2 separate regions of the Homo sapiens genome follow, and region 2 is linked to region 1. Evidence: fine-mapped expression QTL. A gene starts in region 1. The other region holds a variant in brackets. All regions are shown on one strand. Distances are from middle to middle.

The links. PIP is the estimated chance that this variant, and not a neighbour inherited with it, causes the effect.
Region 2: its variant is the best candidate, but not a certain one, in a credible set for the expression of XPO6 in whole blood (TOPMed, PIP 0.61).

What each region holds. Positions count from the first base shown.
Region 1 is chr16:28,208,856-28,214,230 of GRCh38, forward strand. XPO6 (exportin 6) reads right to left here and starts at 3,110. Exons shown (of 24, transcript NM_015171.4): 1 at 2,511-3,110. The coding sequence starts at 2,513. RefSeq lists silencers at 53-347, 2,858-3,347 and an enhancer at 2,230-3,228.
Region 2 is chr16:28,143,914-28,149,288 of GRCh38, forward strand. It overlaps XPO6 (exportin 6), which reads right to left. Exons shown (of 24, transcript NM_015171.4): 9 at 2,181-2,290. Among named protein-coding and RNA genes, the nearest start is that of XPO6, 65 kb to the right of the region's middle. RefSeq lists an enhancer at 2,656-3,171. The variant T/A (reference allele first, on the strand shown) is at 2,077.

The DNA of each region.
Region 1 (5,375 bases):
TACTGAAAATTCACTTGTAAGATTTGTACACCCATATTCACAGCAGTATTATTCACAATAGCCAAAGGGTGGAAGCAACCCAGGTATCCACCGAAGGATGAAAGGATATATGAAATGCAGCACATACTCACAATGGAATTCAGCTTTCAAAAGGAAGGAAGCTCTGACACACGCCACCACACGGATGAAGCTTGAGAACACTGTGCCATGTGAAATAAGGCAGTCACAACAGGCCAAATACTTCATGACTCCACTTACATGAGCTACCTAAAGTAGTCAAATTCATAGAAATAGAAACTAAAGTAGGGCAGGGGAGAGACTGAAAAAAGACGGGTACAGGTTGTTTTGGGAAAAAACCTTTGGAGATATATGGTGGTGATCGTTGCACAACAATGTGAATGTTCTTAATTTCACTAAACTGTACACTTAAAAATGGTTAAAATGGCTAATTTTAATTATGTATATTTTACTACAATTAAAAAACAAAACTTAAGTATATTGAGGCCGGGCGCGATGGCTCATGCATGTAATCTCAGCACTTTGGGAGGCCGAGGCGGGTGGATCACCTGAGGTCAGGAATTCAAGACCAGCCTGACCAACATGGTGAAACCCCATCTCTACTAAAAATACAAAATTTAGCCGGGCATGGTGGCGCATGCCTATAATCCCAGCTACTCGGGAGGCTGAGGCAGGAGAATCACTTGAACCCGGGAGGCAGAAGTTGCCGTGAGCTGAGACTGCACCACTGCACTCCAGCCTGGGCAACAACAGCTGAACTCCATCTCAAAAAAAAAAAAAAAAAAAGCATTACTGAAAGAATAAATGAAGGAAGGAATGAGTGCTACTTTCATTAGCCACTAAATGTTATACCTCATACCTCTAGATTACTCTTTAGAGAAATCCTATCCCCAAATTTCATAGTTGAGGAAATTGGAACTGAGAGCTTAACTGATTTGCCACAATTCATACTGTGTAATATATATGTTAAAATACATAGACTCAGCTGTGCACGGTGGCTCACGCCTGTAATCCCAGCACTTTGGGAGGCTGAGGAGGACGGATCACTTGAGCTCAGGTTCAAGACCAGCCTGGGGAACGTGGTGAGACCTCATCTCCACAAAAAATTAGCCAGGCATGGTGGCACTTGCCTGCAGCCCCAGCTACTTGGGAGGCTAAGGTGGGAGGACTGCTTGAGCCCAGGAGGTCGAGGCTGCAGTGAGCCATGAACGTGCCACTGCACTCCAGCCTAGGAAACAAAGCAAGACCCTGTCTCAAAACAAATAAAAATAAAACACATACACTATACGTATAGCATATACTGTACGGTGCTGCTCAGCATTAATGGTGTACTTTACCCAGCTGGTTGTAAGCTCCATATCTCAGGACCTACACACTACCCACAGGCCCCTTGAATGTTTCGAAAATTCCACAGGCCTTAAGGTCTGTATCACAAAAGATGCAGCTATGTCCCTTTCTCTATTATACCACTAACTTGGCAGGGGTAAAATGGGTGAAACTGAGGAGAACAGCTCCACTCCTCGAGGTGCTCAACCACAGGCTAGGTGATCCAGTACTTACCAAGGGCTTACTATGTGCCAGGAGCTGGAGCAGATAAGGGTTCAAACAATTTGGTCTTTGAAGGAGCTGTGTATACCGCAATAGACAGATAAGGCTCAGAAATAATTACAAGAGCAAAAAGGCAAATGCTTAACAAAGAGATGTGGGTACACACATTTAGGGGAGTATTGAAAGTATCGGTCTAGAAAACGTGGAGATGTGGATACACAAAGAGATGTGAGTACACACATTTAGGGGAGTATTGAAAGTATCGGTCTAGAAAACGTGGAAGGTAGCTTCAGCAGAGATCAGAGCATGTAGAATAGCAGCCTCAGTGTCAAAAGATCACGACCATTCCTGACTTTGCCATCACCTGTGCAAGTGACCTCTGTAAATCGCTCTGTTTCCTCATATATAAACCTACAGCTAGATGAGATGTTTCTCCTACAATCACCCAGCTCTCTAAGTGTATTAGAGATGCCTAGGTTCAAAGTCAGATGCCTAGGTTCAAATCTTAACACTGTTAAAAAGTCGCTTGACCTTGAGCTGGGGAATTAATTGCTCCGTGCCTCAGTCTCCCCACTTCCGAACAGAGGGCTGGTGTGATCATTAAATACTACTGCACTGTCAATCACTTCGCGCAGGGCCTTGGCAAGTAGTAAGCCCTCAATAAACGATAGTTATTATCCGGAGGAGCTGCAGGAGGCAAACACCAGATGCAAGGGTTGTGCCTGCTGCGCTCCCAGGGCCCTCCCAGGCCTGAGCCATCATCCCTGGGGGGATGGGAGCGCAGGGCCGGGGCTGCACACTCTGCACGCATGTGTCACCGGCCAGGCTCCGCACGCGCCTCTCCCCGCCATGGGGAGAGCAGCGATGGCTCAGCAGCCCCGGGGCCCATTCCCACCCTTCCGGTAGGGCACCCCAGGAGGGAAGGGGGCTCCAATTCCACTTACCATGCTGGCCGGGGAGGGGGCGGCTCAGATGAGCTGGTTCTTGGGCTTCGGACACGTCCCGCTCGCACAGTTCAGGTCATGGTCCCGGCAGACTCGGGAAGTCCCCCACCCATGCAAAGACAACCCCTTCCCCACCGGGCCCCGAGGGGACCCTCTAAAAAGGGCAGGGCCGCCCGGGTCGCCTCATCGGGGGACCCCGAGACAATTCATCCAGACCCACCCGCCCCTCCCCAAGGAAACTGAAAAAGCAGGAAATGAGGCTCGGATGCCGGCGAGGAGGGCAGCTGCTCGGGACCCCCGCCCGGGCCCGACCCCCGCGGGGGAGGCTGCGGGCCCAGGCAGGGGCTCCCCGGCCTCCGCGGGCAGAGGTGGCGGCGGCCCCGGCCCCGAGGCTGAACGGGCGGAGGCTGACAGGCCTCGACCGCGCGGCCCAGGCGGCCGGCTCAGGGGAGAGGCCCGGGGGCCCGCGCTGTCCTCGCAGCCTCAACCCACACGGCCACTGCCGCCGCCCCCTAGAGCATCCTTGCGCGCGCCCGCCCTGGAGCCGCCCGCTAGTACCGCGCGGCCGCCCCCGACCAACAGCCCCAACGCGCCGGAAGTGGCGAGCGCCGGGCGGCCCCACAGCGCGGCCGCCGGGCTGCGGCGCTGGAACCGGACCAATCCGGAATCGAGCGGGGCGAGCGGGGGGAGCGGGCGGAGGGCGGAGGGCGGGGCTGCACCTGACGGCTCCCACTGGCCCCGCCTTCTTACCACGCCCTCTCTTGCCCCGCCCCCTGCGCCCACCGCCCGTGCGTCCACGCGGGCCGGCAGCCATCTTGGTAAAGGGAGCCCGGGCTGCCATTTTAGTAAAGGCGTGGTTTCCCTTTCGCTTTTTTCGCCCATTCATTCCGCTAAAATTTTAGTGAGTGCCTTTTACGGGCGGAGCATCGAGCTGGCAGCGTGACGACACGCGGCCCTATGGAGCTTACATTCATGCAGTCCACACACTCTTGCCCGACTATATTCCAGGCCCTGCTGTGGATGCTAGGACAGGGGAGATAAACGTAACTTCGATAGCCAAGGTGCTGAGAGAGGCAGAGAATGTGTTGGATTCCTGTTCCCATCCTCCAATCCACTTTACTCGTGAAAGTGCTCATCTTTATTTTGTTTTATTTTTGGGGACAGGTTCTTGCTCTGTTGCCCAGGCTGGAGTGCGGTAACACAATCATGGCTCACTGCAGCCTCAACCTCCTGGTGCGCCACCATGCCCAGCTAAATTTTTTTATTTTTTGCAGAGGTGAGGCCTCCTTTTGATGCTTGGGCTGGTCTGGAACTCCTGGGCTCAAGCAGCTTTCCTGCCTCAGCCTTCCAAAGTGCTGGGATTACAGGTATGAGTCATCCAGCCAGGCTGAAAGTGCTAATTTTAAGAAACAGTCAGGAAACTATCCCAAACAGCTGAGGTTGAGCCCGCGGGTGTGCCTACTACATAGATTGGAGCAAATCTATGTAACCCAATGGCCCTTGTCAACCTTAAATAACGAGATTGAGAAAATAGTATTTAAGTATAGGGTTTATTCAAGCCCGAAGCTTGAAGATGGCCCACCAGAAGTATAGTCCAATTAGTGGCAGTTACAAATGGGGTTTCCTTGTTTGTTTGTTTGTTTTTAAGACAGGGTCTTGCTCTGTCGCCCAGACTAGAGTGTAGTTTGTTGTTGTTGTTGTTTGAGACGGAGTCTCGCTTTGTCGCCCAGGCTGGAGTGCAATGGTGCAATCTCAGCTCACTGCAACTTCCGCCTCCCGGGTTCAAACGATTATCCTGCCTCAGCCTCTCGAGTAGCTGGGACTACAGGCACCCACCATGATGCCCGGCTATTTTTTTTATTTTTAGTAGAAACGGAGTTTCACCATAGTGGCCAGGCTGGTCTTGAACTCCCGACCTCAGGTGATCCGCCAGCCTCGGCCTCCCAAAGTGCTGGGATTACAGGCGTGAGCCCTCCCGCCTGGCTTCAAGTGGGTTTCTAAGGAAAAAAGAGGCATAACATAAGGTTGAATAGGAATGATGAGAAAGGGGGAAAAAATAACATAAGCTATTGCCTATACATTGTTCTTTGTATCACAAATTTCAGGAACCTGAAGGAAATGGGGGAGGCAGCTAGTCTGGAACAAAATATCTTTAAACAATTGTCCCCGAGCATGTGGAGGTGGGAGTGTGCCCGAACTCCCATACACAAGTCTCAGTGGACCTGACAAATTTTGCATACTTCACATAACTCAGACTTCCCTGAGCTATTTTTCTTTCCTGTCAAACCTCAGTGTGATCTGAATCAATTCACCCAGAAGGACTGTTAAAACAAAGATTACTCGCTCCACTCATAGACTTTCCCATCCAGTAGGTTTGAGATGGGGCTGAATAATTTGCATTTCTAACAAGCTCCCAAATGAAGCTGATGCTGCAGGTCTAGATACCACATTTGGAGAACCACTGATACAACACTTTACCACTGAAAGCAATAGCTTTCAGGGGTTTTTTAGTTTTTTGTTTGTTTGTTTGTTTGTTTGTTTTTGGAGAAAGGGTCTCACTCTGTTGCAGTGACATGATCATGGCTCACTGCAGCCTCAAACTCCCAGCCTCAAGCACTTTTTTTTTTTTTTTAATGAGACAGAGTTTCGGTCTTGTTGCCCAGGCTGGAGTGCAATGGCATGATCTCGGCTCACCGCAACGTCCGCCTCCTGGGTTCAAGCAATTCTCCTGCCTCAGCCTCCCAAGTAGCTGGGATTACAGGAGCCCACCACCGCACCCAACTAATTTTTTGTATTTTCAGTAGAGACGGGGTTTCACCATGTTGGTCAGGCTGGTCTCAAACTCCCGACCTCAGGTGATCCACC
Region 2 (5,375 bases), 65 kb before region 1:
CAGGAGCCACCGCACTCGGCCTTGTACTGTTTTTTAAAAAGCATTTTCATATTAATCATTTCCTCAGTTTATTCTCACAACAAGCTTGAGAGATATGAAGGAATATCTACCACTAAATATAGAAAAATGAGGCATAGTCCCAGAACCAAAAAGATATGCCTATTTAGCATGCAAGAAAGATTATTTTGGCAAAAGTAACTTTTCCTTCAAGAATCTCATTTCAAAAACATAATTACTTAAAGTTGGCAACTTCACCAAAAACAGGATCTCCTGTGTGTAATACGATTTCTGATATATGAACGTACTACCTATAATCACACATGTGACCTGACACCATAGCAACCTGGAACTTATTCCACAATTACAAAAACCATCTTTGGGAACAAAAGAACAAATGTTTAAACTTGGAAAATAAAATTCTCAACAGAATATTTGCATATTTATTTATTTTAATTTTCAATAGAGACAGAGTTCAGCAAATGGTACCAGTGACTGGTACCAAGAGACACAAGGAGTCTCACTATGTTCCCAGCCTGGAGAGCAGTGGCCAGCCACAGCGTGATCACTGCACACAACAGTTCTGAACTCCTGAGCTCCAGCGATTCTTCTGCCTCAGCCTCCCATGTGGCTGAGACTACAGGTACATACTACCACATCTAGGTCCTGTTTAGAATTTTTTAAACTCATAAAACCTCAGCAATGGAAAAGCCTTTGGAGTTCCAGCCCAACCTTTTCTCTGCAGTGGAGTCTCTCCTCTCCACCTTCCTCCATTTGGTACATTTATGGGGAAAGAGTATTCACTAACACCACCACCAGGTGAACACTTGCAGTGTGCCAAGCATTCTAAATATGTTAGTTCGTTATTTCAATTAATGTCTCAACAACTATTATTTTCATCCTCATTTTACAAATGAGGAAACAGAAGCTTCCACAGGCTAAGTACCTTACCCAAGTACCCCTAGGTAGGAACTACAAAACCAGGATCCAAACATAGGTCTGTGCGATTCCCCGTCATGGCTTCCACTCGACAGAACCCCCTCATGCACTGGTTTTACAACACAATGACCACCTAATCTGAAATTGCTCTTATAAATACTGTGCAAAGAAGTAGGAGCTATAACCAAACTGAGTAAAATCTGCAGGCACTCTGTTAAGTATGATAAAGTACTTAGGGCTAGATCACCTAGTTTGTAATCTCATAGCATAAATATACAAATTACACGAATCAGTTTTAGTTTATTAGGAAACTACTCTGATCCTAAAATGCAAAATATAGCTTCTTTGCCTCCTTCATGACTGCCTGCTCACTGTGTGACTGGGATGCAGTCACCTACTGAGACTATGATGGGTATGTTTCTGCTAAGAAAAGCTGCCACATTTACTTTCCCCATATATGGATGCTGCCATTATTTTCCTGGCATGCTGAATCTCCACCTTCCCCTCCTCTTCTCCCCACCCTGTGGCACAAAGAACATATTGTACAGGAAATATACTCTCTTCCTGCAAGCAAGAAAAATGGGTTTGAGAAACATATGGGGGGGGAAACAAACCATTCCGCATTCTCTGTTTTTTAAAAATACAACAAAAAGTGCAAAAGCAATTATCTCTGGGGTGTGGGATTATGTTTATCTTCCTTACATTTTCCTATATCTTTTCCTAGATTTAAAAATGAACACCTTTTTCTTAACAGGTATTTATTAATTTATTTAGGAAATTTTCAAACACATACAAATGGGGTAAGAACATAATGAACCCCAAGTTCCTAGGAACTAACTCCAACATCAATCACCAACACATGGGCAGCCTGTTTCTTCTCTACAGGAACCCACTTCCCTTCTACCCCCACTGGGTTATTTAAGCAAATCCCAGATGTCATATCATTTTATCCAATAAATACTTCAGTTTGTATCTCTAAAATAAGGGCTATTAAAAAATTAAGAACATTAACACAAATGCACTAAAATATAAAAAATTAGTAATACATATTACTTTTAAAATTTTAAAAAGTCTTAACAAAATACTTAAAGGAGAAAAAAAAGGAAATGCTCAATGGCATTATTGCCTAAACAGCTTACA[T/A]GACTCAGCTTCACTGAAAAGGTCCAAATGCATGGCTGTCTCTTAGGCCACTAGAATAACTGGCAAAATGACCATATCTAGTTTTCAGTGTTTGAGGAGTTTACCTGTTGAGAACTGCTTCCTTGTCTCCAAGACGACTTTTAATTTTACTTGTCAGATAGTCCAAAAACAGCGTCCAGATATCCAAACAAGAGAAGTAACCTTCATGAGTAGGCTATGGTACAAAAAAAATCCAGACAATGAAATTATTTAATGCTACTATTCCTTAGAAACACACACATGCCAGTGTTTAATTCCAGCAGAATGATGAAATCATAAGCCTAGATTCCCCAGTTTCCTGGTAACCAAAACTGGTGGCTTTTAGTCGGTCTATACCATTGGGCCCTCCTGAACCTTACAAGACAAGGGTACCATGGAACACATCATGAGGGAGATACTGTGCAGCATAAACTGAGTTATAAAATAAGTCAAGCAAAAACCTATCTTAAAATCTGAGACTGGTAGAGAGGGCTCTTACAGATCATCTAGTTTAAATCTATTTTCCAGAGAGAAATCGAGATTCAGAGATATAAGTTGTTCAAGGCCAGAGGTAAAAACAAGTCCCTTTACCCCCAGCCAATGCTCTTTCCATTACAAACCATTACGAAAGCAAAAATCAGTTTCAGTGGCTCCAAAGGTGACAGGTTCACACATTTGAATGTAAGGAAAGTAACACTTGCAGTCTTCCTACAGAACAGACTGAAAATGAGCTCATTAAGTCTGACCCTCAGGGCATTATCCCATTTGCAAAAGCAAGGGTGTCAAACGTGCTAATAGCAACCTCCAACCAGGTGCTGATGTGGAGGAACAAAGTGAGAAGTCTTTGTAGGATCCTAGTAGTACAATGAAGACCACTGCACTAGTTAACTTTCTCAAGGGCTCTGAGACTCTATTTCATGCAAAGTCCAGGCAACACAATCTCCAACAGCTACTCCTTCCCCTATGCATTCAGGTTCAACTTGTGGCTCCAAACCCTGATATCTCCACTCAAATGCTCACTACCTGAAAGACTCCTTTGGTTTTGCTGGTGGCTGTCTCACTGGACCACATATTTGGTGACAAGATCAAATATGAAAATAAATAATAACATGACCTTCTTGGATCAGTTTCTTTCCATTGCTGATCCACATGGAAATCTAGACGTTTACAAGGGCATACATGGAGGTGCCCAAGAAATAACTAACAATGGGTGGTGGTATCCAGTGGGAGTTCTGTACCTAAGCTGAAGTCTGAGACAGAATAAGTGTAACTTGGCTGGGCGTGGTGGCTCATGCCTGTAATTCCAGCATTATGAGAGGCCACGGCAGGTGGACTGCTTGAGACCAGGAGTTCGAGACCAGCCTGGGCAACATAGTGAGACTCGGTGTGTATATTTTAGAAAAAAAATTAAAATAGGAAAGGAAAGGAAGAAAAAGAAAGAAAAAAGAAAAGAGTGTAACTTAAAAAGCCAGGCAAATTCCAACTTCACGACCCAAAGGGTAGCTCTGGAACTAGACAGGACCAACCTCAGAAAACAAAATGACCAAGTCCTGTCTCTACCTCATACTTGGCAATACTGACAATATCCACGACATGAAGTGAACCAGGAGAATAACCAGGAAAAACAATGAATAAGCCACATGGAAATGATACGGCAGCCAGACCGAGTGGCTCACATCTGTAATCCCAACACTTTGGGAGGCCCAGGCGGGTGGATCTCTTGAGGTCAGGAGTTTGAGACCACCCTGGCCAACATGGTGTAAACCCTTTCTCTACTAAAAATACAAAAATTAGCCGAGCATGGCGATGCACGCCTGTGATCCCAGCTACTCGGGAGGCTTAACAGGAAAATCGCTTGAATCCAGGAGGCGGAGGTTGCAGTGAGCTGAGATCGTGCCACTGCACTCCAGCCTGGACAACAGAGCAAGACCCTGTCTCAAAAAAAAAGAAGAAATGATATGAGTAGTCCTTGGACAGGCCACTAGACTTGCCCATCCAAGAGACACACTCTTGTCCTAGGTTCAACTTGCTGAGCTTCCCTCAAGTCAATCACCAAGGTTATCCCTCCTTGGTTCAAAACTATCCACTAGCCCCCTCAAAAGAGCACAGCTCATCAGATGCATATGGAAGTGCCTTTGGGAAAGGTTACCACATAAATCCAAGTATTATGGCTCCGTCAAAGTACTTTATAATTATACATATAAACTTCATGCATGTGAATTGAGGACTTGCTATATGCTCAAGGCTGGGGGAAAGGTGAGCAGACACACCCTGTATAACCTGAAGCACCACCTTTCACATCCATTCCTGCAGGCCCCACTGCGAGGGCTTGTGCACTGCCCACAGGCCGCCCATGACCTGGCCTCTGATAGTTGCTGTGGACATGGTTCATTCCGGTCATCAAGATGATGGGCTGGCTCCATTTTTGAAGTCGCCTAACTTTTCAAAACCTTCACAGACCCATTTTTAAAATGGACCTAGACCCCAATTTACTTTTCAGATTCCAGGGCTACAAATCCAGGTTTCTTTAAGAAACTAATGATACCATTCTATCTTCCAAGTGGTTTACAGTGTTTAGTTTTCATTTGCATTGGTCTATGTGATCTTCATAAGTCTTGGAAAGTGAACAAATATTTTGCATCTTCCCCTTTTACAGATAAAGAAACCAAGGCTCAAAAGTCAAGTCCAGTCGTATCTTGCCCAAGGTAACAAGACAATTAAGGAACAAAATCAGAACTAGAAAGTGGATCTTGGCCAGGCACGGTGGTTCACACCTGTAATCCCAGCACTTTGGGAGGCTGAGTCAAGTGGATCACCTAAGGTCAGGAATTCGAGACCAGCCTGGTCAACACGGTGAAACCCTATCTCTACTAAAAATACAAAAAATTAGCCGGGTGGGATGGTGCTTGCCTGTAATCCCAGCTACTCAGGAGGCTGAGAGGTAGAACTGCTTGAACCCAGGAGGCAGAGGTTGCAGTAAGTCAAGATCGCACCATCGCACTCCAGCGTGGGCGACAAGAGTGAAACTCTGTCTCCAAAAAAAAAGAAAATAAAAAAAAAAAAAAACAAAAGGAAGGTGGATCTTAAGGCTCTGTGGTCCACAGCCCTCCCCCCCAGGGTATACCATCTCAGGCACAGTTTCAGGAAGAAGGGGCAAAATGAAAAACACAAGAACAAGAAGGAAGTGGTGAGGACGCACTAAGCTTAGGAGCATTAAGACAGAGACATAGGTTTATAGACAGCCAGGAGGCTCAGCAAGCAAAGCAAGGCAGGAGGCAGCA